7 separate regions of the Homo sapiens genome follow, and regions 2, 3, 4, 5, 6 and 7 are each linked to region 1. The links come from fine-mapping of genetic effects on plasma protein levels. A gene starts in region 1. Each other region holds a variant in brackets. All regions are shown on one strand. Distances are from middle to middle.

Evidence for each region. PIP is the chance, under the fine-mapping model, that this variant and not a neighbour inherited with it causes the effect. Protein levels are from antibody-based Olink assays in UK Biobank. Linkage for the fine-mapping came from a reference panel and not from the study's own genotypes, which makes the PIPs less certain.
Region 2: its variant is fine-mapped to the plasma level of the GUSB protein (UK Biobank, PIP above 0.99).
Region 3: its variant is fine-mapped to the plasma level of the GUSB protein (UK Biobank, PIP above 0.99).
Region 4: its variant is fine-mapped to the plasma level of the GUSB protein (UK Biobank, PIP above 0.99).
Region 5: its variant is fine-mapped to the plasma level of the GUSB protein (UK Biobank, PIP above 0.99).
Region 6: its variant is fine-mapped to the plasma level of the GUSB protein (UK Biobank, PIP above 0.99).
Region 7: its variant is fine-mapped to the plasma level of the GUSB protein (UK Biobank, PIP above 0.99).

The regions. Positions count from the first base shown.
Region 1 is chr7:65,980,481-65,984,548 of GRCh38, forward strand. It overlaps GUSB (glucuronidase beta), which reads right to left and starts at 1,733. Exons shown (of 12, transcript NM_000181.4): 1 at 1,494-1,733. The coding sequence starts at 1,703. RefSeq lists enhancers at 1-322, 1,779-1,908.
Region 2 is chr7:65,681,571-65,685,639 of GRCh38, forward strand. All of the region lies in intron 3 of LINC03006 (long intergenic non-protein coding RNA 3006), which reads right to left. It also overlaps the pseudogene INTS4P2. Among named protein-coding and RNA genes, the nearest start is that of SNORA22, 72 kb to the right of the region's middle. The variant T/C (reference allele first, on the strand shown) is at 2,462.
Region 3 is chr7:66,908,509-66,912,577 of GRCh38, forward strand. No RefSeq gene overlaps it. Among named protein-coding and RNA genes, the nearest start is that of LINC02604, 6.4 kb to the left of the region's middle. The variant A/G (reference allele first, on the strand shown) is at 1,667.
Region 4 is chr7:65,640,388-65,644,456 of GRCh38, forward strand. No RefSeq gene overlaps it. Among named protein-coding and RNA genes, the nearest start is that of SNORA22, 110 kb to the right of the region's middle. The variant C/T (reference allele first, on the strand shown) is at 2,378.
Region 5 is chr7:65,619,262-65,623,330 of GRCh38, forward strand. No RefSeq gene overlaps it. Among named protein-coding and RNA genes, the nearest start is that of SNORA22, 130 kb to the right of the region's middle. The variant GA/G (reference allele first, on the strand shown) is at 1,575.
Region 6 is chr7:65,628,883-65,632,951 of GRCh38, forward strand. No RefSeq gene overlaps it. Among named protein-coding and RNA genes, the nearest start is that of SNORA22, 120 kb to the right of the region's middle. The variant G/A (reference allele first, on the strand shown) is at 1,578.
Region 7 is chr7:65,497,547-65,501,615 of GRCh38, forward strand. It overlaps the pseudogene LOC101929322. Among named protein-coding and RNA genes, the nearest start is that of ZNF92, 130 kb to the left of the region's middle. The variant T/TTAAG (reference allele first, on the strand shown) is at 2,000.

The DNA.
Region 1 (4,068 bases):
TGCCCCCAGGCCTAGCACAAGCCCTGACACATAGCGGGGATTCTTGGCAGAAAGGACAGATAACTTGCTGATGACAGGTCAACTGCCAGGGCGATCTGTGCACCTGGGCCAGTGGGGCCAGGAGTTCCTCCTCAGAGTGGATGGGGCACAATATCTCCTGAGACAGGAGCAAGCCCAGGGCCACATCCCAGCCAGAGGCAAGAAGGTTCAGACCTGTGACTAAGAGGCAGATGGCCACTGCCTGTCACAGGGAGGAAGGCTGGTTGGAGGAATGGGGGGAGCTTTGCTTAGGACACTGTGAGTGGGGTGCACACTGGCACCCAGCCCCCTCCTCTTTCCCTCCTGTACTGAATGCTGCAAAGTCAGAATAAGAGGATGTAGACCAGGCAAAAGCCGCCCAGACCTCACCCAGTTCCACTTCTCTGCAGATCACATCCAAGTCAGGAGGGGAACAGGGGTGGCGTCCTGGGCCTGATGTCATGTCCTGTCCTCTATGTGAACCTTGAAAACCAAGGGACTTCCTGCCTCGGCAGAGCTGACCTCAGGACATCTAAACTGTCACCTTCTCCCGATCCCCGGGCCCAGCTCTGTGCAGTGCATGCCGCTGTGGCCAGAGTGTGTGGGTGGCTCATGCCAGTAATCAGCGCTTTGGGAGGTCAACGTGGGAGGATGGCTTGAGGCCAGGAGTTCGAGACCACCCTGGGTAAATAGTGACACCCTGTATCTTTTTTTTTTTTTTAAGTTTTTTTGCCTTTTTTTTTTTTTTGGAGACGTAGTCTCACTATGTCGCCCAAGTTGGAGTGCAGTGGCATCCTGATCTCAGCTCACTGCAACCTCTACTCCCGGGTTCAAGCAATTCTCCTGACTCAGCCTCCCAAGTAGCTGGGATTACAGGCATGAACCACCACACTTGGCTAATTTTTATATTTTTAGTAGAGATGAGGTTTCACCCTGTTATGTTGGCCAGCCTGGTCTCAAACTCCTGGCCTCAGGCGATTCGCCCGCCTCCACCTCCCAAAGTGCTGGGATTACAGGTGTGAGCCACCGAGCCCAGATAATTTTTTTTTTTTCAATTAGCCAGGCGTGTTGGCACCCCCTAAATTGCAAGGCTGGGGCGGGAGAATCGCTTGAGCTCAGAAGTTAGGCTGGCGCCACTCCGCCCCAGCCTGGGAAACAGGTGCAAACCCAGTCTCAAAAAAATTTTTAAAAATTAAAAATAAATATTGAAAGGAAGGATACTGCACAGACTCAGCCTTTACCTCGGGAAAGGGCTCGGCAAGAGCCTTTTCTCCTCCTGCCTAATCCGCCCCGGCCCTCCAGGGTGCTCCTGTTCCCCCGTCCCCCAAGCCGGCGCCCCCAAGCCCGTTGACCTTTAACCTCCTGCGGGCCCCAGCTCGGAGACGCCCAGGGGAAGAAGTCTGCGGGGGGCCCGGGCTCCCCTACTCCCACCGCCGGGCTTTCGGGCGCCTCCCGGCCCTGCCCCGAGATCGCACCTCCCACAGCGGCCGCCGGTACCACTGCTCCTCGAAGCCCCGGCGTCGGTTGTCAGAGAAGTCGGCGCGGAAGCTCCAGAGGCCGTCCAGCTCCTTGCACTCCCGCGACGGGCTCTCCTGGGGGTACAGCATCCCGCCCTGCAGCCCCAGCGCGCAGCCCCACAACAACGGCCCGAGCGCCGCCCAGGCAACCGCCGACCCCCGGGCCATGCTTCCCGGTCCCCCGCTCGGCCACCGTCTGCGGCGCTAAGAAAAGCGCGGGAGGTGCCCGTAGGGCGGGTCGCGTGACGCGCCGGTGTCGTGATGCGCCTGAAGCCATCCGCGCCATCTTGGTTGAGGACGAGTGCCAGGCCTGGAGGGGCGGGGCCGGGCGCTGCCCGGTAGGGCTTGTGGCTGGAACCCCAGGCTAGGCCTTTGGGGAAACGGGACCCTCACCCTCAGCCCCAGCCGATAAGGGCGAGGTCTGCTCCCCACCCCGACCCAGGCTGGACGATCCAGGGCCGCAGGCCAGAACAGAACCCCTGAGATCGGTGGGATCCCCCTGTTTCTTCAAGGAGCACCTCCACTTGCTTTTCCCAGCAGGAATTCAAGGAGGCCCCAGCGGCGCCTCTTCCATGCCTGTCTGATGCAGCCTCTTGCAGGGATGCACGTCCTTGGGATGCGGCCATAGCCTTGACCCTGGGCTTCTGGAGCCCTGACCTTAACCCAGGGGCCAAGAGCTCCCTCTTGGTGTTGCAGGCACATAAAGATGCAGGGAGAGAGGCCAGGTGCACTTTGGGAACCCGAGGGGGGCAGATCACTTGAGGCCAGGAGTTCGAGACCAGCCTGGCCAACGATAGTGAAACCCCGTCCCTATTTTGTAAACATACAAAAAAAAAAAAAAGAATTAGCGGGGCGTGATGGTGCGTGCCTGTAATCCCAGCTACTCAGGAAGCTGAGGTAGGAGAATCGCTTGAACCCGGGAGGCAAAGGCTGCAGTAAGCCGAGATCGCACCACTGCACTCCAGCCTGGGCAACAGAGCGAGACTCTGTCTCAAAAAAAAAAAAAAAATTGCAGGGAAAGGGTGCCCTGCGGGACCCCAGTTTACTCCAGTAGGGAAGGCACCGTGTGGGAGAGGTAGAGGAGGAGATCTGGAGACAGCAAAGGAGACATAGATTTATGGAGGGGACTTTCATACAGGGACGGTGCAGTGGCCATTGCTGGACATGAGAACCACTACCATTTGTAAAAAGCATGCAGCTTACATAACATTTTCAACTAGCATCCTCGACCTGTTACTGGTGGAGTTCCGGGTGGTGAATCCCTACACATCAGCAACAACCTCAATTCTTGCCTCCTCAGAAGAAAGAATTGCACTGAGGGGCATAAGGCAGAAAGCCAGAGGGAGGTAAGCTGCAGAGCAGTAGTAAAAGCTTGTTAAAAAGCAGGCCAGTGCTGAGCGTAGTGGCTCACACCTGTAATCCCAGCACTTTGGGAGGCGGAGGTGGGGGGATCACGAGGTCAGGGGTTTGAGACCAGCCTGGCCAATATGATGAAACCCCATCTCTACTAAAAAATTAGCTGGGCATGGTGGCATGCGCCCGTAGTCCCAGCTACTCGGGAGGCTGAGGCAGGAGAATCGATTGAACGCGGGAGGCAGAGGTTGCAGTCAGCCGAGATCGCACCACAGCACTACAGCCTGGCGAGAGAGCAAGACTCAGTCTAAAAAAAAAAGCAGGCCAGGCACAGAGGTTCAGGCCTGTAACTCCAAACTCCAGCACTTTGGGAGGCCAAGGCGGGAGGATCACTTGATATCAGGAGTTTGAGACCAACCTGGCCAACGTGGAGAAACCCCATCTCTACTAAAAATACAAAAATTAGCCAGGCGTGGTGGCAGGCACCTGTAATCCCTACTATTTGGGAGGCTGAGGCAGGAGAAATGCTTTAACCCAGGAGGCAGAGGTTGCAGTGAGCTGAGATCACGCCACCGCACTCCAGCCTGGGCTACAGAGTGAGATGCCATTTCAGGAAAAAAAAAAATATTAAAAAACTTTAGAACAGGAAGGAAAGAAGGAAAGTACAACTTGGAAGAGGGCCAAGTGGGTGATCTAAGAAACCAAGTGCCTTGGCCAGGTGCGGTGGCTCACGCCTGTCATCCCAGCACTTTGGGAGGCTGAAGCAGGCAGATCACCTGAGGTTGGGAGTTCGAGACCAGCCTGACCAATATGGAGAAACCGCATCTCCATATTTAGCTGGGCATGGTGGCACATGTCTGTAATCCCAGCTACTCGGGAAGGCTGAGGTGAGAGAATCGCCTGAACCAGAGATTGCAGTGAGCCGAGATCACGCCATTGTACTCCAGCCTGGGCAACAAGAGTGAAACTCCTACAAAAAAAAAGAAAAAGGAAAACAAGTGCCCAGCTTGACCTCTTGACTCAGGGTTTCATAGATTGGCATCCTTCCAGGATCTTGCCACTCCTGATTCCTTAGCTGGGGCTCTGAACATACATTCTTAGACCATAAAGTCATTCGCAGGGTGCACAACAGTTACGGATGTCAGGTGCCTCTGCCATACAGAGGGAGCCCTCATGTCCT
Region 2 (4,069 bases), 300 kb before region 1:
TCAAATGGTATTTCTGGTTCTAGATCCTTGAGGAATCGCTACACTGTCTTCCACAATGGCTGAACTAATTTACACTCCCACCAACAGTGTAAAAGTGTTCCTGTTTCTCCACATCTTCTCCAGCATCTGTTGTTTCCTGACTTTTTAATGATCGCCATTCTAACTGGTGTGAGATGGTATCTCACTGTGGTTTTGATTTGCATTTCTCTAATGACCAGTGATGATGAGCTTTTTTTAATATGTTTGTTGGTTGCATAAATGTCTTCTTTTGAGAAGTGTCTGTTCGTATCATTTGCCCACTTTTTGATGGGGTCATGGTTTTTTTCTTTTTTGTGTGTGTGAATTTAAGTTCCTTGTAGATTCTGGATATTAGCTCTTTGTCAGATGGATAGGTTACAAAAATTTTCTCCCATTGTGTAGGTTGCCTGTTCACTCTGATGATAGTTTCTTTTGCTGTGCAGAAGCTCTTTAGTTTAATTAGATCCCAGTTGTCAATTTTGGCTTCGTTGCCGTTGCTTTTGGTGTTTTAGTCATGAAGTCTTTGCCAATGCCCGTGTCCTGAATGGTATTGCCTAGATTTTCTTCTAGGGTTTTTATGGTTTTAGGTCTTACATTTAAGCCTTTAATCCATCTTGAGTTAATTTTTGTATAAAGTATAAGGAAGGGATCCAGTTTCAGTTTTCTGCGTATGGCTAGCCAGTTTTCCTAACACCATTTATTAAATAGAGAATCCTTTCCCTGTTGGTTGTTTTTGTCAGGTTTGTCAAAGATCAGATGGTTGTAGATGTGTGGTGTTATTTCTGAGGGCTCTGTTCTGTTCCATTGGTCTATATATCTGTTTTGGTACCAGTACTATGCTGTTTTGGTTACTGTAGCCTTGTAGTATAGTTTGAAGTCAGGTAGCGTGAGGCCTCCAGCTTTGTTCTTTTTGCTTAGAATTGTCTTGGCTATGTGGGCCCTTTTTTGGTTCCATACTAGTATATATATTTAAGGGGTACATGAGATGTTTTGATACAGGCATGAAATATGAAATAATCACATCATATAGATAGGTATCCATCTCCTCAAGGATTTATCCTTCGTGTTGCAAATGTTATTAAGATGTAATCAAATTAACTTAAGTTTAAAAAGTGAGTATACCATAACCAGGTATCAGGTATGACAGCTTTCTAATTTTATCACATTTATACAATTCTGGGAAAATTTGGGTTTTAGGGGTGCATTGCTGGGAATGAAATGGAGCCTTATTTCGCTGGCTGTTCACTCTAGTGTAGTGCCTCACATACTTCTAGTCTTCTAATTTATCCATCTTCTCTCTCCTTTTTGGGACTTTGTGCATGCAGCTTTTCTTCTAGAAAGGCCTTTTTCTTTCTTTTGGCTTAGCAGCTCTTTTAGTTATTGTTTTTAGGGATCACGTATTACAGAAAGCCACCTCTGATCCCATTGATTGGGCTATATTTCTTCATATGCATTTTCTTACATTCCCTGTGCTTTTCCATGGCAACAGTCATCACTCTGTAATGCAATTAACTGTTCTTATTTGTAAGCCTGGGGGATAGTCTTGCTTTTGTTCATCTTTGTGTCTTTAGTACTAAGTACAAACCTAATAGGTAGCTAAGTCTGGACCCAATTATACATGTGCAGATGCTGACGATCAGTCTTTTTTAAAATATAGTATAGTAGATTCCTTTTCTCTGCTCTGTACCCATGGGGAATCTGTGACATATTATTTATTTATTTTTAATTAACTTTTTTTATAGAGATGGGGTCTCACTATGTTGCCCAGGCTGGTGTTGAACTCCTGGGCTCAAGTGATCCTCCTGCCTTGGCCTCTCAAAGTGCTGGGATTATAGGCGTGACATGCCTGGCCGACGTATCTTCAACGTTCCAAAAAGTTCAGTGGAAAATATCAATTTTCTTGCTTATAGTCTGGCCGTTCAGGCAAAGTAAAATACCACATTTCTTTGCTTCTGCTTGGAACTGTATCAGCTGAGGTCACACTGATTATCTCTTTCTGATCAGAAATTCCTTCCTGATTGCCTTGGTGGACTTGCAAACGTTACATATGAGTCAGTGTGGTGTAATGGTTAAAATTCTAGGAGGAAGAGCCAGCACTTAACATGTTTGGGTTTATCTCTAGCTTGCCTTATAATTAGCAATTTCATGTTTAAATTATATTATTGTGAAATGAAGAAAATTGTTCTCTTCTGATGAAAAGGAGGAATTCATAACTACCAAGAAAAACCTGAATCATCTGTCTTTAATGTAGTAACTCTACTTTTAACATGTCTATAAAACCTTTCTTTATACAAAGAGGAAATTGTGTTTGTGAGTTTTAACCACAACTTTAGGTACTTTTTGTTTTGTTTGTTTTGGAATAGTCCATTTTGTTACAGAAGCATATGGGAATCACTAGAAAAAAACAACCATGTATAGAAGTCTTGTGAGCATTTTCTGTGTC[T/C]TACTCATTTCTCATCTTTGTATCCTAGCCCTTAGTACTGCACCTAGCATATAGTACGTGTTCAGGACCCATTTATTAGTGAATGAAGAAAGGGCTTCCTCGGATCAGTGGCTTTATTGTTTACATGTTCTGAGCATGCCAAGGGGTGGAAAACATGCCTCTGTTTTCAGGGTGCTTACAGAACCCAAACCTATACCCTAGGTGATACTTATTGAGCCCTTAAAATATGCCAGGCAGAGTCCCTATGTGCTTTACCTGTATTATCTCATTTAGTCCTAACAACTCTGTAAGGAAATGAGTATTATGTCCATTTACCAGGTGAGAAATTTGAGGTGCCAGGAAGTTGAGTTACTTATTCAAGATCACCCTCCAACTTAGTGGAGGGATCATTCACTACAGTGTGCTCTGAGACCTCTATCATTCCAAGCATGTATCCTTAACCACTATATGATTTTAGCCTACAATCAACAGACCTGAGTATTGGTCCTAGTCCTGCCCTCATTCACTTTGAGGCAAGTTAATCCACGTTGCTGAATCTTACCTGTAAAATTCGAACAATGATATTTAGTCTACTTTAATCTTAATAATAATGATAACATTATTTACTAACTGACTTTTTAAAAAGTACTGTGGTCGGAATACTGAGATAAGTAAGACAATTTAATTTTCAAGAAGTTAATGTAGACAGACATGTAGACAGACTCATCACATATATGTGGAGTCAGATTTAAGCCATAGTCCTTGTGATACTAAAGTCCATGTTCTTAGATCGATGTTAAGGTGGGTGGTATGTGAAACTGTGGGCATAGAGATCTCCCAGGGAGAGTTTATAGAATGAGAGGAGTAGAGAATAGAAGACAGCCTGAAGGAGAATGAATCCATCTTGGACTTTTCCCATGGCTCTTAATTTGATATGAGTTACTTTATATATATATAAAATATGGGGCTTCAGTGTGTTGCTCAGGCCAGCCTTGAACTCCTGAGCTCAAATGATCCTCCCACCTCAGCTTCCTGAGTAGCTGGGACTTTGGTGTATGGCATTGCACCTGGCTGATGTGCAGTTTTTGTTTTTTTGTTTTTGGAGTTTTTTTTTTTTTTGAGACAGGGGCCCAGTCTGTCACCAGGACGGAGTGTAGTGGCACAATCATGGCTCACTGCAGCCTCAAACTCCTGGGCACAAGTGATCTTCCTCCCTCAGCCTCCCAAGTAGATGGGACTATAGGCGTGCGCCACCACACTTGGCTAATTTGTTTTTTGTGTGTTTTGTTTTGAGATAGGGTCTCGTTCTGTCACCAGGCTGGAGTGCAGTGGCACGACCTTGGCTAACTGTAATTTCTGCCTCCCAGGTTCAAGTGATCCTCCCATCTCAGCCTCCCAAGTAGCTGAGAGAACAGGCGCACACTACCACAGCCAGCTAATTTTTTAATATTTTTGGTAGAAACAGAGTTTTACCACATTGCATAGGCGGGCTCAAGTGGTCTGCCTACCTTGGCCTCCCAAAGTGTTGGGATTACAGGCATGAGCCACTGTGCCCAGCCTGATGTGCAATTTCATTTGTTCTTTTTTCTAGAGGTTCGTATTGCTGCTGTGGAGGCCCTCTGCATGTTG
Region 3 (4,069 bases), 930 kb after region 1:
TTTTCCAATCATGCTTCTTCCAAGTCCCTGGCCATAGAGCCAAACCATTGGCTACAGCCCATGAGTCAGTATATAATCGCACACCTGGCCATTTCCTTCCATGCAAAGTGCACAACCAGGTGCACTGCTTGAAGTTCTGTCCACTGGAAAGATTTTTCTTCACTGCTGTCCATAAGGGATGTCCCAGAAAGGGGCTGTAGTGCTGCAGCTGTCCATTTTTGGGTGGTGCCTGCATATCGTGCAGAACCACCTGTGAACCAGCCCCTAGTCTTCTCTTCCTCTGTCAACTGATCATAGGGAACTCCCCATGAGGCCATCATTTCAGGCTGGGGAAGAGAAGATAGGGTGGCAGGAGTGGAGACCACGAGCATTTGAGCCACTTCCTCATGTAACTTACTTGTGCCTTCAGGACCAGCTGGAGCCCGATCACATATATACCACCTCCATCTGATGATGGAATGCTGCTGTGCACGACCCACTTTATGGCTAGGTGGGTCAGAAAACACCAGTTCATGACAGGTAGTTCAGGTCTCATGGTGACTTGATGACCCATAGTCAAATGTTCAGTTTCCACCAAAGCCCAGTAATAAGTGAAGAGCTGTCTCTCAAAAGGAGAGTAGTTATATGCAGAAGATGGCAGGGCCTTGCTCCAAAATCCTAGAGGCCTATGGGGGTCTGCCAGAGGCTCCAAACACCATCCCTATCTGCCACTGACACCTCAAGCACCACTGGGTCCGCTGGGTCATATGGCCCAAGTGGCAGAGCAGCTTGCACAGTGGACTGGACCTGTTGCAGAGCCTTCTCCTGTTCTGGACCCCACTTCTGGTACCAAAATGTGTATTAGGGTCCAGGGTCCACTAAAGGGACAGAACTAATAGAATATATATATATATATATGAATTTATTAAGGGGTATTAACTCAATCACAAGGTCCCATCACAGGCCATCTGCAAGCTGAGGAGCAAGGAAGCCAGTTTGAGTTCCAAAGCTGAAGAACTTGGAGTCCGATGTTTGAAGGCAGGAACCATCCAGCACAGGAGAAAGATGTAGGCTCAGAGGCTAAGCCAGTCTAATCTCTTCACGTTCTTCTGCCTACTTTTTATTGTGGCCTCGCTGGCAGCTGATTAGATGGTGCCCACCTGGATTGAGGGTAGGTCTGCGTCTCCCAGTCCACTGACTCAAATGTTAATCTCCTTTGGCAACACCCTCACAGACACACCCAAGAACAATACTTTGCATCCTTCAATCCAATCAAGTTGACACTCAATATTAACCATCACACCCCTCCTCCTTTCCCCAATTCCCACCACAAAAGCATAATAATTTGTCCAAAGAGTCCTACACTTAGTCCTTCTCTGAACAAAATGCCGGGTGGTTGTAGGCTGAGTGTCACTCCTTTATCACGTCTCCTCAGTTTTTTTTTTTATTTTTGAGACAGGGTTTCCCTCTTGCCCAGGCTGGAGTGCAGTGACACAATCCTAGCTCACTCTAGCCTTCAATCCTGGGTTCCAAATGATCCTCCCCCTTCCGCCTCCTGAGTAGCTGGGACTACAGCTACTTAACCACTATGAACCACTTCTGGCTCATTTTTAAATTTTTTATAGATACGGGGTCTCACTAGATTGCTCAGGCTGATGTGGAACTCCTGGCCTCAAGCGATCTGCCC[A/G]CCACAACCTGGTTCAAGCGATTCTGCCTCTGCCTCCCAAGTAGCTGGGATTACAAGTGCGCACAACCATGCCCAGCTAACTTTTGTATTTTTAGTAGAGATGGGGTTTCACCATGTTAGCCAGGATGGTCTCGATCTCCTGACCTCGGCCTCCCAAAGTGCTGGGATTACAGACATGACAGTGTTTTAATTGCCCATTTTAATTTTCAATTAACCTGAGAGTTTGAGAGTGATAAAGAATGTGATAAGTCCATCGAATATGCTGGTTCTTTGCTCATTGTTGCTCGGCATGGGCTGTGGATTGAGTGTCTTGATCTGGGAAAACGTAACTGAGAGTGCCAAACCAATATGGCTATCAAAGCCAAACAGACCAGGTGTGATCACTCATGCCTGTAATCCCAGCACTTTGGAAAGCTGAGGCAGGAGGATCACTTGAGCCCAGGAATTTGAGACCAGCCTGGGCAACATAGTGAGACCCTATTTCTACAAAAAAATTAAAAAATTAGCTAGGCTTGGTGGCATGCACTGGTAGTGCCAGCTACTCAAGAGGCTGAAGTGGGAGGATCGCCTGAGCCTCTGAAGTTGAGGCTGCAGTAAGCTGTGATTGCACCTCTGTACTCCTGCCTGGGCAACAGGTGATACCCTGCCTGTAAAAACTAAAAATAATTAAAAAATAAAAACAAAGCCAAACTCAGAGTATGCATGCAGACCTGTCGGTGTCCATTTAATTTCTCTTGGAAAAATGGGTAAAGGGCCAGTATCATCTACTTGCCAGCTGTGGGCTGGACTTCCTCCCCAGGAAATACTCCCAGACCTAACTGCAAACATAACCTTTTCTGTTGGTAAACAGAGCAATGTTTAGTAAACATTTGAACTTCTGCAGGGAAAGTACTACATGGTGCTCAGCCCCTCACTTCATGGCACGAGTGCCCCGGGCCCACTCATTTTATGGACCCACATTGCTACTTTATGAGATTGAAGTAGGGCAGGTGCAGTTGCTCAAGCCTGTAATCCCAGTACTTTGGGAAGCTGAAGCAGTAGAATTGCTTGAGGTCAGGAGTTTGAGACCAGCCTGGGCAACATAGGGAGACCCCATCTCTACTAAAAAAAAAAAAATTAGCTGGGTGTGGTGGCACATGCCTGTGGTCCCAGCTACTTGGGAGCCTGAGATGGGAGGATCTACTTGAATTTGGAAGGTTGAAGCTGCAGTGAGCTGTGATGGTGCTACTGCACTCCAGCCTGGGCAACAGAGCAAGACCCTGCCTCAAAAATAAATAAATAAAATGAACTAAGGGGCCAGGTGCAGTGGCTCATGCCTGTAATCCCAGTACTTTGGGAGGCCGAGGCAGGTAGATCGTTTGAGGTAAGGAGTTTGAGACCAGCCTGGCCAACATGATGAAACCTTGTCTCCACTAAAATACAAAAGTTAGCAGGATGTGGTGGTGCATGCCTGCAATCCCAACTATTCAGGAGGCTGAGCCAGGAGAATCACTTGAACCCAGGAGGCGGAGGTTGCAGTGAGCCAAGATCGCTCCACTGCACTCCAGCCTAAGTGACAGAGTGAGACTCCATCTCATAAAAAAATAAACTAGGTATTCACTTGTTGATTCTGGCCACCTTCAGACCCTGGCATAAGGCTTCTTTTGGTGAGCATTGACATGCCCTGCTTTGATTTGCCTTTTATTTTATTTATTTTATATATATTTTCAGAGACGGGGTTTTGTTCTGTTCCCCAGGCTGGAGTGCAGTGGTACGATCATAGCTCACTGCAGCCTCAACCTCCTGGACTCAAGCGATTCTCCTCCCTCAGCTCCCCAAGTACCTGGGACCACAGGCGTGTGCGACTATACCTGGCTAATTTTTTTTTTTTTATTTTGTAGAGATGGAGTCCTGCTATGTTGCCCAGGCTTGTCTCCAACTCCTGGCCTCAAGCAGTCCTCCCATCTTGGTCTCTCAGAGTGCTGAGACTATAGGCATGAGCCACTGCACCTGGTCTCACTTGCCTTTTAAATTCCCATGGAGGTTTCCCAAGGGCAGTAGTCCACAAGGGGATGCATTGTATTCTCCAGTAACGTAAGAACCCACTTAAGCCACATTGCAAGTCCACTGACAAGTGTCAATCTGCAGCCAACCAATGGGTCCTTTATCTGTGTCCAGTTCATCAATTACTGCGCTGAATATAGCCCCTGGGTCAGCTTGTGTTTGCCAATCTCCTGGACTCAGGTAGCAGCTCTCCATGTTGATCTATGGCCTGTGATTCTGAAACTGTAATCTGTGGGCCAGCCAGTTGCCTGGAATCCTCTGGCAATTGGTTGAACAGAGGGGTACATATGGCAATAGTAGCAGGCAGGTCCCTGGACATCTCTAGAGTAAGTCCTAGGAGGAGAGGCTATTTGTTCCTGA
Region 4 (4,069 bases), 340 kb before region 1:
CAGACTGTGCAAATTGTTCTCCATTTGCCATGCCCCCATGCACTCAACACTATTCCATGTCTTCCGTGTGCTCTGGGAAGCTGACCCTTGTCATTTGCATGACTGGGACTCTCTGCTCTCTGTGTTTGTCTTGGGTGGGGCCTATGGAAGGCTTTAGCAGGATATTGGAGGGCAGGAAGAGAAAGAAGTCAGGGTATTTCTTCTTCAGGTCCTACTTCGGCCCTGTGCGCTGGCCGTGATCATGTCCTTTCAGGATATAACTCCCTTCGCCCTGTTCTCCTCTGTACCTCTTCTGATGCAGGGCTCCTAAGGAAACACTGCTCCTTTTCCTTGACTGTTTATCCCTAGGGGTAGTATTATATTCTCACCATTGCTATCCTTTGGGTGCCCTGCCACCTTGTTTGCTCCTTAAGTCTGTCTACAATTAATGCAAATAACTCCTTTATTAAAATCTCTTTATTTGAACACTCTGGGATGAATTCTGTTTTTTTCTGGGACCCTGACTAATACAGAGGCTGATACTACACCCATATGAAAATACATCAAAGATAATTTGCAAAGCATGTTTGAAAGCTCTACGTTAGGATCACTAGCACTGGCATGCCAAAAGGCACAGAAAAGAAAATACAGGGCATAGCAAAATATTGTTTCTTCTTAATAGAGAAACTGCCTCAGGGAGAGACTAGGCTGGTGAGAAGGGGGAAAGACTTTAAGAGTCTTATAGACCAGGCATTAGAGAATTGTGATAGGTTTTTGAGCCTGTGATAAAAGCTGTGTTTGGGGAAGATTTTTCTAGCAACCATTTGTAGGAGCAGTGGAATTAGGAAAAAAGGGTGACAGTAAGGAGAACAGTTAAAAGGCTTTTAAAATAAGCCAGTGTAAAGTGATTGGAGGCAGGTTCACAAAGTGGCAACAAGTATGAAAAATAAGGAATGAAATAAATAGTGAAAGAAACATTATTACTATTGGAATTTGCATTCTTGCTCATGTGATGCATTTGCTTCAAATTGGTGTAAGCTCTTCACATGCAGAGGGCTCATGTGCCTTGATGTAACATTAGATCAAGTGGCAGAAGCTAAATTTGGAATTAAGGCAATATTTGGTTGTAGGGAACATCATTCTCGTTTCTAGCTCTTGGACTTTATGTGGAAGCACTTTAAGTCCTAAGAGGCTAATTTTAGTTCAATCTATTTAGTTAACAATATTTCAGATCCTTAATTTTTAGTTTCCAGATGATCAGACTCCTCAGCTTGAAATGCAAGGGCATTATAGACTTCAAGCAAATTGCATGTGCATTAAGACTATCGAACTTGGGACGAGTAATCCTATAAAAGCAAAATCATTGCTGAAGCATTTTTGTAATCATGTATTCCTCCTGCATGTTCATTTGAAAATGTTCTCTTTTGGTGTGGAGGCAAATGAGCTGATTATATTGAGCTCCGTCCACCAATTTATTTATTTATCTAATAAACATTTTAATGAAGGGGTATCAGGCACGTTTATGTTTTACCCAAGAGACTTATTTAACAGTCATTCAACCATTTGGTCATTAATAGTGAAAAGGTCACAGGCTTTGGCATGAGGCAGGCCTGGGTTTGAAACAGATCTTCGCCATTTCCTAGAAGGGTTGTCTTAAGGCAAATTATTTTTTTAGACATGTTTTCAGTTTTTCTGTTAAAGGAAAAATTGTTTGTAAAGACTGCATTGTGACTGAGAAAGGGCACGCAAACTAGATGAGTTTAATCCTATCTCTCACTCCTGACTAACCTTATATGTATACACAAATACAAAATGCTCCAAGTTGGATGTGAAACAAATGGTGGTATAATACTCGCCCTTAAATATAATTGCAGATAGCCACAAAATATAAAACCATTTACGGATGTGAGAAAATTAGTATAATAAAGAAGAAAATACAGAATAACTTTTTCTTCTGTTATTTAACTGGTGTAAAATTAATTCCTTGACTCTCATATTTGTCAACAAATATGATAATGTATGTGGTGATGTACTGTTTTGCCTTGAGAAGGAAAAAATTATAGCCATAAAATATTTAAGAAAATTCTGGAAATAAGAGTAATAGAATTACTTTTTTCAGACATTTCCCAAATGTGTTTTAAATGGCTTTCCTGAAGGAGAAATAGAGAGGGAGAGAAAAAAAGAGAACATTTAGATATAATTACAGAAAAGACCTATGCATAATATTAGTGGACTTAAAAATAATCATGCATATTCATAACTGAATTGCTAATTAACATTCTCAGAATTTTGTTTAATGTAAGCAAGTTATCCTAATAGGGTTAGGGCAAAAACAATATGATAAAGATTGAAATCTGTGGCTATTTAAAAGCACTGAAAACTTGACTAAATTGCCTCT[C/T]CCCCTCCCTTAGACATAAACAATTAAGCCTCATCATGTTGTTTTTTCTTCCCCGCCGCCCCCTCCCCCCACCCCACCCCAAGACAGAGTCTCACTACTCTGTGGCCCAGGCTGGAGTGCAATGGCGCCATCTTGGCTCACTGCAACCTCCGCCTTCTGAGTTCAAGCAATTCTCCTGCCTCAGCCTCCCGAGTAGCTGAGATTACAGGGGCCCACCACTGCAATCTCAAAAAATACAAAAACTAAAAATAATTTTTGTATTTTTAGTAGAGATAGGGTTTCCCCATATTGGCCAGGCTGGTCTCGAACTCCTGACCTCAGGTGATCCACCTGTCTCCACCTCCCAAAGTGCTGGGATTACAGGCGTGAGCCACCGTGCCCGGCCTCATCATGTTTTTTAAACAATAAAAAGGGCAAGTTTTAGAAGACAGTATCTTAAGGCTGGGTGCGGTGGCTCATGCCTGTAATCCCAGCACTTTGGGAGGCCAAAATGGGTGGATAACTTGAGGTCAGGAGTTCGGGAACAGCCTGACCAACATGGTGAAACCCTATCCCATCTCTGCTAAAAGCACAAATGAATTAGCCAGGCATGATGGCGGGTGCCCATAATCCCAGCTATTCGGGAGGCTGAGGCTGGAGAATCGCTTGAACCCAGGAAATGGAGGTTGCAGTGAGCCGAGATGGCGCCACTGCACTCCCGCCTGTGCGACAGAGCAAGACTCTGTCTCAAAAAAACAACAAAAAAGACATATTAAGATACAATAACACTTTGAGCCTTTGCTGATTGTTGATGAGTTTCAAACTCACAGAGGGTTTTGAAGAAAGGCTGGCAGAACTTGAAGGCAGAACACGTGGGCTGAAGTCCTGTCTATGCCTGTTACTAAATAGCAATGTGAGCTTCTGGAGGACTCTGAACTCTCTCAGCCTCTGTGAAATGGAGATAACATTTCCTGTGGAGCTGCGTCAGAGATGTTGGGGAAATCATATGGAAATCAAGTATAGCTGTCAACAAGTTTTGTGAATTGTAAATGACCTTAAGCATACGAAGTATTAGTCATCTATTCACTCATCACACATGGAGCATGCCTAGTGTTAGGAGGCACGTGGTGGGGTTGGCGGGGGTGTGGTCATTAACATGGTGAATGAGATCTTCAGAAGCAGTGTGTTCCCCTGGGTAAGGGCATGGGCTTTGGAGTTAAACCCACCTAGAGTAATTCAGGGCTCATCACTCCGTGACCTCCTGTCCTGAGACCTTAATTTGTCCAATGTTACATCATTGTAAATCCCAGTTTCTTTAACGCGGATATGAAAAAACACCATATATTTCACAGGGGAGTTATGAGGATGTGAGAACTATGATCAAGCACTTAACTTCACATGTTCAAAGTGCTCAATGACAGTTGGCAACTATCAATCAACTCTTCACACATTATATCTCTAATCAAGGAAAGCAGGCATTTGCACCAATAATGACAGAACAAAACAACATGGGGGAGAGTAGTAGTATAAACAACTTTGAGAGTTCATAGGTGGGCTGCCATACTTTCAGCTAGAGTGATAAGTAAAGACTTTGGAGACAGGTAAATATTAAGAATAAATCTTGAAGAACGAGTCATACCTCAATAGGAAGAGATATGATTGGTGGACAGCATTTTAGGTAGACAGAGAATAGAATGAGCTAAAGTGTAGAGA
Region 5 (4,069 bases), 360 kb before region 1:
TTTTGTGTCTTTTTGTTATAGTGTCTCAGGGCTCAGCATACACTGATCATTCAAAAAACTTAAATTTGTTTATTGGTTCTTTCAATTGATCAGCAAGTTTTTATTGAACATATACCATGCATACAGTACTGAGGTATCTGGGAAACATTTATTGTCTACTTTGGAAAATGTACTTTATTAGGTTTGATGGAATACAGACAAATAAGACATGGTATTGCTCTCCAGGGGTTCAAAATGTAATATGTATCATAATAAGTTGCTATAAGACAGTATTTTTCAACTATTTTAATCCCTGTCTCCTATAATACTATTATTTTCTTAAATCCTGCATAGCAGCTATCTTGGAACATGTATGATTTTTTGATGCTTTACTTTCCATAGCTTGTGCTTGAAAATAATAATGATATTGAATATGCATTTTTGAATATATGATTAAAACTATATTTATTTTCAGATGATTGTGCACATAGAAAAAAAACTCGCATAATTTTTTTTTTTGAGACAGAGTTTTGCTCTTTCACCCAGGGTGGAGAGCAGTGGCGCGATCTTGGCTCACTGCAACTCTGCCTTCTGGTTTCAAGCGATTCTCCTGCCTCAGCCTCCTGAGTAGCTGGGACTACAGGTGCATGCCACAACACCTGGCTAATTTTTGTATTTTTAGTAGAGATGGGGTTTCACCGTGTTGGCCAGGCTGGTCTCAAACTCCCGACCTCGTGATCCACCCACCTTGGCCTCCCAAAGTGCTGGGATTACAGGCGTGAGCCACCATGCCTGGCCCAAAACCACATAATTTTAAAAGTTACTTAGAAATGAGTAGTAAATTTAGCAAGGTTACAGATATGAGGTCAATATAAACATTCACTTTTAATGTACATATTAGAAACTAACACATAGAAAATGAAATTTAAAGAATACTGCTTATAGTAGGATCAAAAACATACAACATATATAAGGGTCAATTTTAACAAAAATGCGCAAATCCTTTACACTGAAAACTACACAACTTGAATGTGTGTTTTAGAAATGATTCATTCCTTCTTCTACCCCGCCACCCCCAGACTTTGATATGTCCTCCTTTCCCTCCTCCTCACTTTCTTTGGAAATAGCTGTTCAAATAAAAGATGTAATATACTAAAAGCTAGCACAGACGTATAAACAGAGACAGAACAAGGAGGTGGAAATGGGTGCCACGCTGTGGAAGAATCTGATTTCAGGCTTCCATGTGCCAGGCACTTTTCCAGGAGCTGGGTTGAGTGAAGAAAGGCAATATTCATGCTCACGGGGCTTACATTTGAGTGTGGGGAGATGGACACTCCATAATAAACATAAATGAACAGATGTGTTCAGATGCTGAGATGTGCTTAGAAGAAATACAACAGATTAACTGTGAAAGACTAACCTGGGTATTAGGAGGAGGAAGGTAATTAGACTGTGTGGTCCAAGTATGCCTCGCCAGAGGAGGTGACATTTGAGATAAGACCTGAGTGACAAGAAGTGATCAGTTGTGTAAAGATATGACGGGAGTGCATGACAAGCTCTAGCGCCAGAGTAAGGCTCTTTTGTTCAAAGTAAAG[GA/G]AAAAAAAAATAGTTCAGGGAGGTTGGAGCAAGAGTGAATATCGCGAGAGGAAGCGTGATGACAGCTGAGGCTTTGATGATAGTCTGGAGCCAGATCATGCACGGTCTTGAAGTTCTTTCCAGAAGTTCCAGAGTTGCGGAATTTGGGCTTTATTCTACCAGTAGGACACAATGTCTTGAGGCTCTTCATCTAGAGAATTGCTCAGACACTCGGTTCAAGAAGATTTGCCTGGCAGAAGTGTGAGGAGGATTGGGGTTCAGGGGAGAAAATGGAGGCAGGTCAATGAGGACTCATCCAGTATCCTGGGGACAGGCCGTCATGGTCTAAGAAGTGCTAACTAGGGGCCGGGCACGGTGGTACGGTGATGCACGCCTGTAATCCTAGCACTTTGGGAGGCCGAGGTGGGCGTATTGCCTGAGCTCAGGAGTTTGAATCCAGCCTGGGCAACATGGTGAAAACCCATCTCTACTAAAAATACAAAAAATTAGCCCGGCGTGGTGGCGGGCGCCTGTAGTCCCAGCTACTTGGGAGGCTGAGGCAGGAGAATTGCTTGAACCCGGGAGGTGGAGGTTGCAGTGAACCGAGATTGCACCACTGCACCCAGCCTGGGCGACAGAGTGAGACTCCATCTCCAAAAAAAAAAAAAAAAAAAAAAAGCTAGCTAGGGATGTAACACACAGGACAGACGCTCTGGTAGGTAGTGTTATGTTTATCTAACGCTATATAGTGTTGTATTTATATAACAACCAGCTGAGTGGTTGATGCTGGGGCGAAGATCGTTAAATCATGGAGGATGCTGATGTTAAACCTCTATCGGGGAGGTCTAGGAAAATGGTGATGTAATTAGTTAACAGAGGAAAAATAAAATAAATAGAATGGTTAGGTGTTTGGGAATAAACTTGAATTTTGTTCTGAGATAGCCCCGTGAAACTGGCCAGCAGGTGGCAGCATAAGGTCTGGGACCCCACAGACAGTTCACTAAAATTTGAGATTAGGAAGTCTTGGAGATTTTGAAGTTAAAGACAAAAGCAGAAATGCAATTGCCATGGGAGACTGAGAAAAGATGAGGAGTGATGACTGAGAATTCAAGGGCAGGAACCAGGAAAGGACACTGAGAATGCTGGGCTTGGGGGAAGGAGATGAACCGGGAGTCAAGGTTGTCTCAGTCTCCAGGAGAAAGACAGGTGCGTGAGGTTTCAGTGCTGCAGGGACTTGCAGCTGAGAGATAAGGGTGTGCCTGGGTAACCAAATTAGAGGGGTTGAGAGAGAACAGAATAGAAGTGGAGGAAGGGATGCTGTTTAAAGAAGTTTTGAGAGAAAGAAAGTAGATATGGTGGGAGAGCTTGAGAAAGAATTGGAGATTTCTTTAGGATAGGGCACGTTTAAGCATGTTTTCAAAAAAAAGAGAAGGGATAACTAGTGAAAGAGAATAAATGCAGAGTAGGATCTTGATGGAAACTTTAAGGAGAGGCATTAAAGACCAATGTTACCTTTAAATCATGTGATTTGGTTGGGGGATAAAAAGGTACACACAAACATATACTTAATCAGAGAGGAAAGTTCTATGATTAAATGCTAAATTTGGATATAGATAATTAGGGAAGTTCAGAAAATGTATGTAAGTTCACATTGTAAAATCCAAAGCTCTGTGGAGGAGATGAGTGTTTGATGACAAGAAGGATTTGGGAAAGACATCCAAGATGAGAAGAAATGGGGAGTCAGCAGGACAAAGGCATGGAGTAGGACGTGATGTGTAGGTGCGTGAACAGCAGTAAAAAGGTCCAGCTTCTTGGAGAGGAGGATACATGAATGGAAAATACAAAGTGGCAATTTATAGATGGGTTTGGAAGGAGAGTTAAGACACTTACATGCTTTCCACTGAGATATATTTTACACTATGCTTAACTTTGAGTTCTGAATGTTATTGTTTGATTCTCTTTAAATTCATTTCCTGTTATTTAGACTGTATTGGTGAAAATACCCCAGTTAATGAAATGGATGGACTCACACACACACACACACACACACACACACACACTGTTAACCAGTCACATAACTTTTTAATAGGCTGTTTTCAGAATAACCAGTTTCTCCAAACTCATATTTTCTTTCTTTTTTTTTTTTAACTCGTAAGTGGGAGTTGAACAATGAGAACATATGGACACAGGGAGGGGAACATCACAAGTGGGACCTGTCAGGGGGTTGAGGGCAAAAGGAGAGTGAAAATTAGGCCAAATACCTAATGCATGCGGGGCTTAAAACCTAGACGATGGGTTGATGGGCGCAGCAAACCACCATGGCACATGTGTACCTATGTAACAAACCTGCACGTTCTGCACATGCATCCCAGAGCTTAAAGTACAATAAAAAAAATCATATTTTCTAAGTTCAGCCGAGGTATGTAGCTGTTCCTTTAGCATCTGTAGATGGTATATGATTAGACTTTTATTTCAGGCACAAATACTGAACTGGTTTGTGGCCGAATCCAGATTC
Region 6 (4,069 bases), 350 kb before region 1:
AATGAAAATGTCATTTAAAAAGGTTTCATTTATACAATTTTAAAAATGTAAAAAATTCATGTCCTTTGCCCACTTTTTGATGGGGTTGTTTGTTTTTTCCTTGTAAATTTGTTTGAACAGACACTTCTCAAAAGAAGACATTTATGCAGCCAAAAAACACATGAAAAAATGCTCACCATCACTGGCCATCAGAGAAATGCAAATCAAAACCACAGTGAGATACCATCTCACACCAGTTAGAATGGCGATCATTAAAAAGTCAGGAAACAACAGGTGCTGGAGAGGATGTGGAGAAATAGGAACACTTTTACACTGTTGGTGGAACTGTAAACTAGTTCAACCATTGTGGAAGTCAGTGTGGCGATTCCTCAGGGATCTAGAACTAGAAATACCATTTGACCCAGCCATCCCATTACTGGGTATATACCCAAAGGACTATAAATCATGCTGCTATAAAGACACATGAACACGTATGTTTATTGCGGCACTATTCACAATAGCAAAGACTTGGAACCAAACCAAATGTCCAACAATGATAGACTGGATTAAGAAAATGTGGCACATATACACCATGGAATACTATGCAGCCATAAAAAATGATGAGTTCATGTCCTTTGTAGGGACATGGATGAAATTGGAAATCATCATTCTCAGTAAACTATCGCAAGAACAAAAAACCAAACACCGCATGTTCTCACTCATAGGTGGGAATTGAACAATGAGAACACATGGACACAGGAAGAGGAACATCACACTCTGGGGACTGTTGTGGGGTGGGGGAAGCGGGGAGGGATAGCATTAGGAGATATACCTAATGTAAATGACGAGTTAATGGGTGCAGCACACCAGCATGGCACATGTATACATATGTAACTAAACTGCACATTGTGCACATGTACCCTAAAACTTAAAGTATAATAATAATAAAAATAAATAAATAAAAAGTAAAAATAAAAATGTAAAAAGTTATACAAATATTAAAACTATATTTATTTATACAATTTAAGCATTTTCTAAAAAATTATTAGTTTATTAGGGTTTTTTGTTTGGTTTTTTTTTGTTTGTTTGTTTGTTTTGTTTTTTTTTTACCTTGCAAGAACATGAGCTTCATGTAGGAAGAGATTTTGTTTCATTCACAGCTGCATCTCAGTGCCTTGGGTGGCATCTGGCACAAACAGGCTTCCTTAAAATATTTGTGGAATAAATGAAAGAATTAAATTCAGCTTATTTTCTGCTCTTTGTCAAGCACTAGCTATTAGATGTCAAGGACATGTTCGTGAGCAAAACGAAAATGGTTATTGTCCTCATGGGGCTTATAGTCTAATTGGGAAGGTGAATAATTTAGCACAGTTCCTGCAATGCAATGTGTTATGTTAACTGAATAGTCAGCATATAGCAGGGAGAACTGATGTAGCCTAAGGGAGAAGATGGGTGTCATTGAAGTTGAGACTAAAATATGAGCAGAATTAAGAAAAAGAGGTTATCAGTAGTAGTATTGTTTTAACCAGAGGGTGGCACAAAGAGCAGTGGGCAAGAGAAAGGATGGCAGTTGTAGAGACTAGGAGAGGGGGATAGTA[G/A]GAGAGTAAGGATAGAGACCTAGGCAAGGGACAGATCATATAAGACTTTATATGCCTCAAGAGGCAGTTGAAAAATGTTTTGAAAGTCAATGAATGGGCACCAGAAGGTTTTAAGCAGAATAATAGAATCACCATCTTAGAAAGATTATTCTGGCTGTAGTATGGATAATGTATTGGTGAGGCATAACACTGGAGGAAGGGAGACCCATGAGATACTACAGTAATTTTCCAGAAATGATAGTGGCCCAGCCTATGATGGTTGCACTGTACTAGGAATGGACAGAAGTAGATGGACATATTAATAAAAAGACATTTTAGGGATATATGTAGGGCTTGGCAATTAATTGGATGTTTAAGGAGAGGACAAATCAAGGATGATGCCTTGATTCTTGGCATGGGAAATTCGGTCATTGATTGAAAGAGCATTCCTGATATAATGAATGATTGGGGAAGAGGGGGAAGGAGGATGATGAATTTTGTGGGATATACTGAGTTTAAGGAGCCTATGAGATATACAGCTGCAGATGTCTGGGAAAGGTTAGTTGGTTATGTGAGTCTGAAGCTAAGAATACAAGGTCTTGCTGAGACAGAGAATTGGGGCCTCACTAGTATATTAATGGGACTTGGTGAGACAGATTCAGAAAGTATGTGGGGTGGAAATTGCAGAGGGCCTGAGATAGAGCCTTGAGGACTCAGAAATGTGTTGAAGGAGAGGACCCTGGCATTCCAGTTTCTCTAGAAATCGTTTTCCCTGTCCATAAGTGGAGCCCCTCCGGCCATGTCTCTATTCTACAACCCTGATCCTCTCCCTGGTGTCTCTTCAGCCACAACTGATTGATTTAACACTGAGCTCTTCACTAAAGCTAAATTATCAGAGTCCTTCCGAGTAATATCTAAAATGGGAGTGAAAGGAGGAGGATCATTCTCTCTCAGGGGGTGGGAGGCAGTAGTTTGAGGCTGTGAGATATGAGGCTGGGAAGTTTCCACCACAAGGGGGAAGCTGACCTGGAAGAATAATACTGACTTGTGCAACAGAATAAAGGTGGCAGATGGAAAGAGTTCTGATGGTGATGAGGACCTTAACCAGGCTTTTCTTGTAGATATGTGAGATAGTTCAAGGTTCTCCTAATTATGTTTTCCCATTTTTAGCTAGCAACCTAGAGTCCAGACTAGTACATTATAATAATAGTTGCCTCATAGAGCGGTTGGGAAGTTAAAGGAAATAATATGCATAAAGATTATTGCCTGCTACATAGGGAATATAACAGATACTGTTGCCTACTGATTTAACAACTTCCTTTTCTTTGAAGCCAGCACTGTCTAATAGAACTTTCTGAGGTGAAGAAGATTTTTCCATATCTGCATTGTTTAATAGAGCAGCCATTAGTGACATGTGGCTATTGGTCACTTGATGGAATATGGCTAGTGCAAACTGAAAAAATTGAATTTCAAATTGTATTTAACTTTAATTACTTTACACTTAAATGTAAATGTAACTTTGATTTCTTTACATTTAAATGTGGCTAATGACTATCATATTGGACAGCAGAAGTCTAGGGTGATAGACCTAAAGAACAACAATTTTTAAAGCCATTTTGGATTGGATTTTCTATCATTTGCAGCTGCAAGCATCCTAACTAATACTATGTATTAAAAATAAGTGGAAATGATTTATTTAACATGGCATGAACATCCCTCATTTTAAGATGATATTAAAGAATTAAATTTTTGTTTTTATATAGAAATTCTGAATTAAGTCAGAAGGTGAATGTTTGCCATACACACAAATTATTAAAGTAATTTCTCACAGGTTTCCTAAATACCAACTTCTCAGTCAGTGAATATAAAATGTGACTCGATTTATTAAAATTAAAATGATATACAGCTTTTCAACAACATTTCATTCAGATATATTTCTACATAAGTTGCAGAATTATAAAACACACATACTAGAGATTGTCCCTAACTTTATCAAAATAATTCTCCTTTGGGTTCCTTTAACAACATGCCCTCTAGTCTACCAAAATATTATTTTACAGATGGTGGGGGTGTGCTACTTGCAACCCAGACAGACAATAATTCAGCTAAGCATTTTTCTTTGCAGTAAGTGAAAATCTGTTCAAAGTGCTGGAAGTTTTATCAACTGGACCATAAGACCCAAGAGGAACTAAGTGTTTCTGTTACGCTTTCTGTGTTTAATAATTCCCAGCCTTGTTAGTAGACACTCAAACACTGCATCCTAGCTGTGGAATCTTGGGTAGGTAACATAGTCTCTGAGAAATTTTGATAAATGCTAATTTTCCGTGTTTTTAGATTTTGGTGGTGAGACTGGTGGTTGCTACCTCTATGCCTGTCTTTCACAAAGGTCACTCAAATTGCTCTGGTTTCTTTTTATGTTACCAAAATGCTCTATAGCTAAACTATTGAGCTTAAATGTCAAACTTGCATTATGTTTAGAAATGGGTACTTATCTCTTTATGCACCTTTCCCTT
Region 7 (4,069 bases), 480 kb before region 1:
AGACAAAATATACCTAAACACCGAAACTGATTTTGCCCTACGGAAATGTACCAAAATGAATGAGTGCAGATTCCTACTGTCATTCATCACATAGGACAGTAAAGAAATACACAGCTTTTCCCAAGATAGGGCATCACACAGGAGCTCCTCCCTAAAGCTAGGACCAAAATTTCTGTCCTCAGTATAAACAAGAATCAGAGGTAAATTAGTCCCATTTCACATTCCCTGGAAATGGCAAATAAAAATGACTTGAGATTGGACAGATTTAAAGAAACTCAATCATTAATGATTTACAGCAATTAATTTAAAAATTGTTTAAATGTGCAGTCCAAACATACATCCAAACACCTTTAGGCCAAGAATTAACATAATGTGGTCCCAGAATGGTGGTGTCTTTAGTAGACTCACAAAAAAATTCAAATTCTCTTTGGCAAATTTTCTTCTTACTAATCCTCAAAAGTGCACAAAAATAATTTTCAGAGAAAAATAAATATTTGTCATTCAAAGGCATCTAAGTACGCAAGGAAATGATATTCCACCATCTGAAAGGAAAGCAGAACAAGAGTACAAACAGATCCACAAAGTTTCATTAGTAGAAATATCACTGTTAGATTATAAAGCAAATTTGCTTTAAAAAAATTTAAAATAAAATGAATATATTTTTAGGAGACTAAAAAATTGATGTAGCAAATTCGAAAAGTAGTTTGTATAAAAATATAGTATTTTAAATTAAAAACTCAAAAATGAACTCATCAGATTAGACATGGCCATGGTGAGAGTTCATAAATATTTCAGAATGCATTACAGAAAATTTTAAAAAATGCAAAATGTGGACAGAATCATTAAGAGACATGGATGATACAGTGAGAAAGTGTAGCATGTGTGTAGTGAGTGTTCTCATACAAGAATAGAACTGGGAAGGGAGAATATGTGATGGTATTTTGGCTGAAAGTTCTCTAGACTTTTGTAAGACACTAATCCGCATGTTCAAAAATTCCATGCATGCTAAGCAAGCTACAATGGAGATAAACCTACACCTACGTATCTCCTAGAGTAATAGTAAACAATCAGGAAGGGAAAAATATTTCACTTAGCACTAGAAAAATCAAATTACCTTTAATCATATTGAAATCTGAAAGAATGAAAGGTAAAATAATAGTATTTGTTAAAAATAATAATGCCATTCTGAAATTCTCAAGCAAGAAAAATATTCATCAACCTATGGCTAAATAACATATTTAGAGACAAAAAACAAAACGCCACCAGCAGAATTCCACTAAAGAAACTAAAGAGAAACTCTGAAAACATGCTTCAGAAAGGCTGAAGTTCTGAAATCAGAGAATGAACACAGAGCAAAATATACTGTAAACATACAGATAGATCTAAATAAAAAATTAGGTGTTGAAACAAAAAGATATTCAAAATTAGATAAGCACTGCAATATGTATGTTAGGAAGCAAATTATTAGGGCTGAAGTATTCAAAGACCCCTTAATTGTCCGACAAGAGCAGAAAGGTGAGTATGACTTTGCAACTCTTTTTTTTTGTTTTTTTGAGAAGGAGTCTCACTCACTCTTTCGTCCAGGCTGGAGTGCAGTGGCGCCATCTCGGCTCACTGCAACCTCTGCCTCCCAGGTTCAAGCAATTCTCCTGCCTCAGCCTCCTGAGTAGCGGGGATTACAGCCGCGTGCCACCATGCCTGGCTGATTTCTGTATTTTTAGTAGTGACGGGGTTTCACCATGTTGGTCAGGCTAGTCTCCAACTCCTGACCTCATGATCCACATGCCTCGGCCTCCCGAAGTGTTGAGATTACAGGCGTGAGCCACGGCGCGCGACCGACTTTGGAACTTTAATAAATTCGCTGGACATTATGCATTTCTCTGTTGTATCTATGAAAACAATAAAAATAAGTCATAATTTAAAAACAAGAAGACAGAAACTAATAGGAGAAAATGAGACATTTTATATATATATATACACAACAAATTAATAAAACAAA[T/TTAAG]TAAGTATAAATGATCAAAGATTAACTTAAACCTAAGTACACGATGTTTCTATTAAAATACAAAGATTGGCAAAATTAAAAAAATCCGTCTCTATCATAGTTACAAGAGAGGCAACTAATATATAAATTTACAGAAACTTTGAAATTCAAACAATACAGATACTGTGTATATATGATATACATACATACTACATGAATATAATTTTTTAAAAAGTTGCTATGCAGACAAAATAGAATGTAAGTTAGAAACATTTATTAAAATAAGTTAGTCTAACCAGTGTGATAAAAATTTTAAGTTATTAAGATGTGATGACTTAAATGTGCATTAGCCTGATACATATATACATAAATACACACACAACACACTCTCACACACACACACACACACACACACGTATTTAGAGAGTCAAATTATATAAAGCAAAAATATCAGAAAGTAAGTAGAAATGGATAAGCCCCCAAATCATTATAGACATTTCAAACACACATCTTTCAGTAATAGATAAAAGAAAAAATTAAAAGAGTAAGTTTTAAAAGAAGCTAGTGGATTTTAAAAAGGGCAAATGTTTTATAAGGAACATGAATATTATAATTCATGTTATTTTCATGTTCATACAGAATACTTACAAAAATTAACATTTTCTAGACCATAACACAAATTCAAACAATTTTCACGGAAATAACGTGACACAGAATATATTTCCTAAACAAACAGCAATGAAGGTAGATATCAATACAAAAAAGAAAGCTAGAAACATAAGTCTAATAATATTGGTTGGAAGCTATTTTAATGAATATTGAAATATTATAAAGGTCAATAGTCAATACAATGAACCAAACACTTTTTTAAGGCCACTAAGATGCAAGTATAATGTGTAATGCCTCCTTTTATAAGGAGTAAATCTGTAACATCACCTGGGCTATTTGACAACTGCAAAGTGAATGTGAGAAGGAGAGAAACAGTGAGAGAGAGAGAGAGAGATAAAACCAGTAAAATAAACATAAAGAACGAAGGAAATATCCAGGCGCCATGGGTCACGCCTGTAATCCCAGCACTTTGAGAGGCCGAGGCAGGTGGATCACCTGAGGTCAGGAGTTCGAGACCAGCCTGGTCCAACATGGTGAAACCCATTCTCTACTAAATACACAAAAATTAGCCTGGCATGGTGGCATGCAGCTGTAATCCCAGCTACTCGGGAGGCTGAGGTGGGAGAATTGCTTGAATGTGGCGGGTGGAGGTTGTAGTGAGTAGAGATCATGCCACTGCACTCCAGCTTGGGCGACAGAGCAAGACTCTGTCTCAAAAAAAAAAAAAAAAAAAAAAAAAAAAAAAAAAGAGGAGGAACCGGTACATGAAAAAGCAGAATTAAAGCCACAGAGTATATATTTAAAAATGCAAAAGCTCACTTTTTCAGAAAAATATTAAAATATTAAATCTAACAAATATCTAGGTAGACTGATGGAGAAAAATACAGAAAATGCACAAAAAACCAATTACCTGGAATGCAAAGGTTACAAAACGTCAGCAGTTGTAGATTTTAAATAAGCAATGACTTTGAGTTCAACCATGATGGGGTATATTGAAAAGAATCTCTCAGAAAAAAAGAAAAAAAACTGTTATAAAGCTATGTATAAAATGTTAAGCACTATTAAAGTCTTCCAATTATACCAGTTATGGAGTTATTTGTCTTGGACTAACTCTCCTGAAAAGAAAAAAACAAAACAAAACCTAAAAACCCGGATAAAATAGCCTACCGTGGGCAATGGCAATGCAACCAAGCAGGTAGGACATGGGTGCTACATTCTCTTTGTCAGAACACAAAGCATTCATACACTCTTCTCACCCTCACTCTCACCTTTTAATCTTAGATCTACTATTAAAAGTATTCAACATTACTATCAATCCTTTGGCCAAAATTTCTTTACTCACATTTTGCTTGATGCACTTGGATAGACTGTTCAAGAAAGTGTGAGTAGTGAATTCCTCAAACTCTTGCATATTTAAAATTACATTTTTGAACCTTGATGCTTGAAGTGTAGCTTGGGTAACGGGTGGGCTTTAAGCCAATT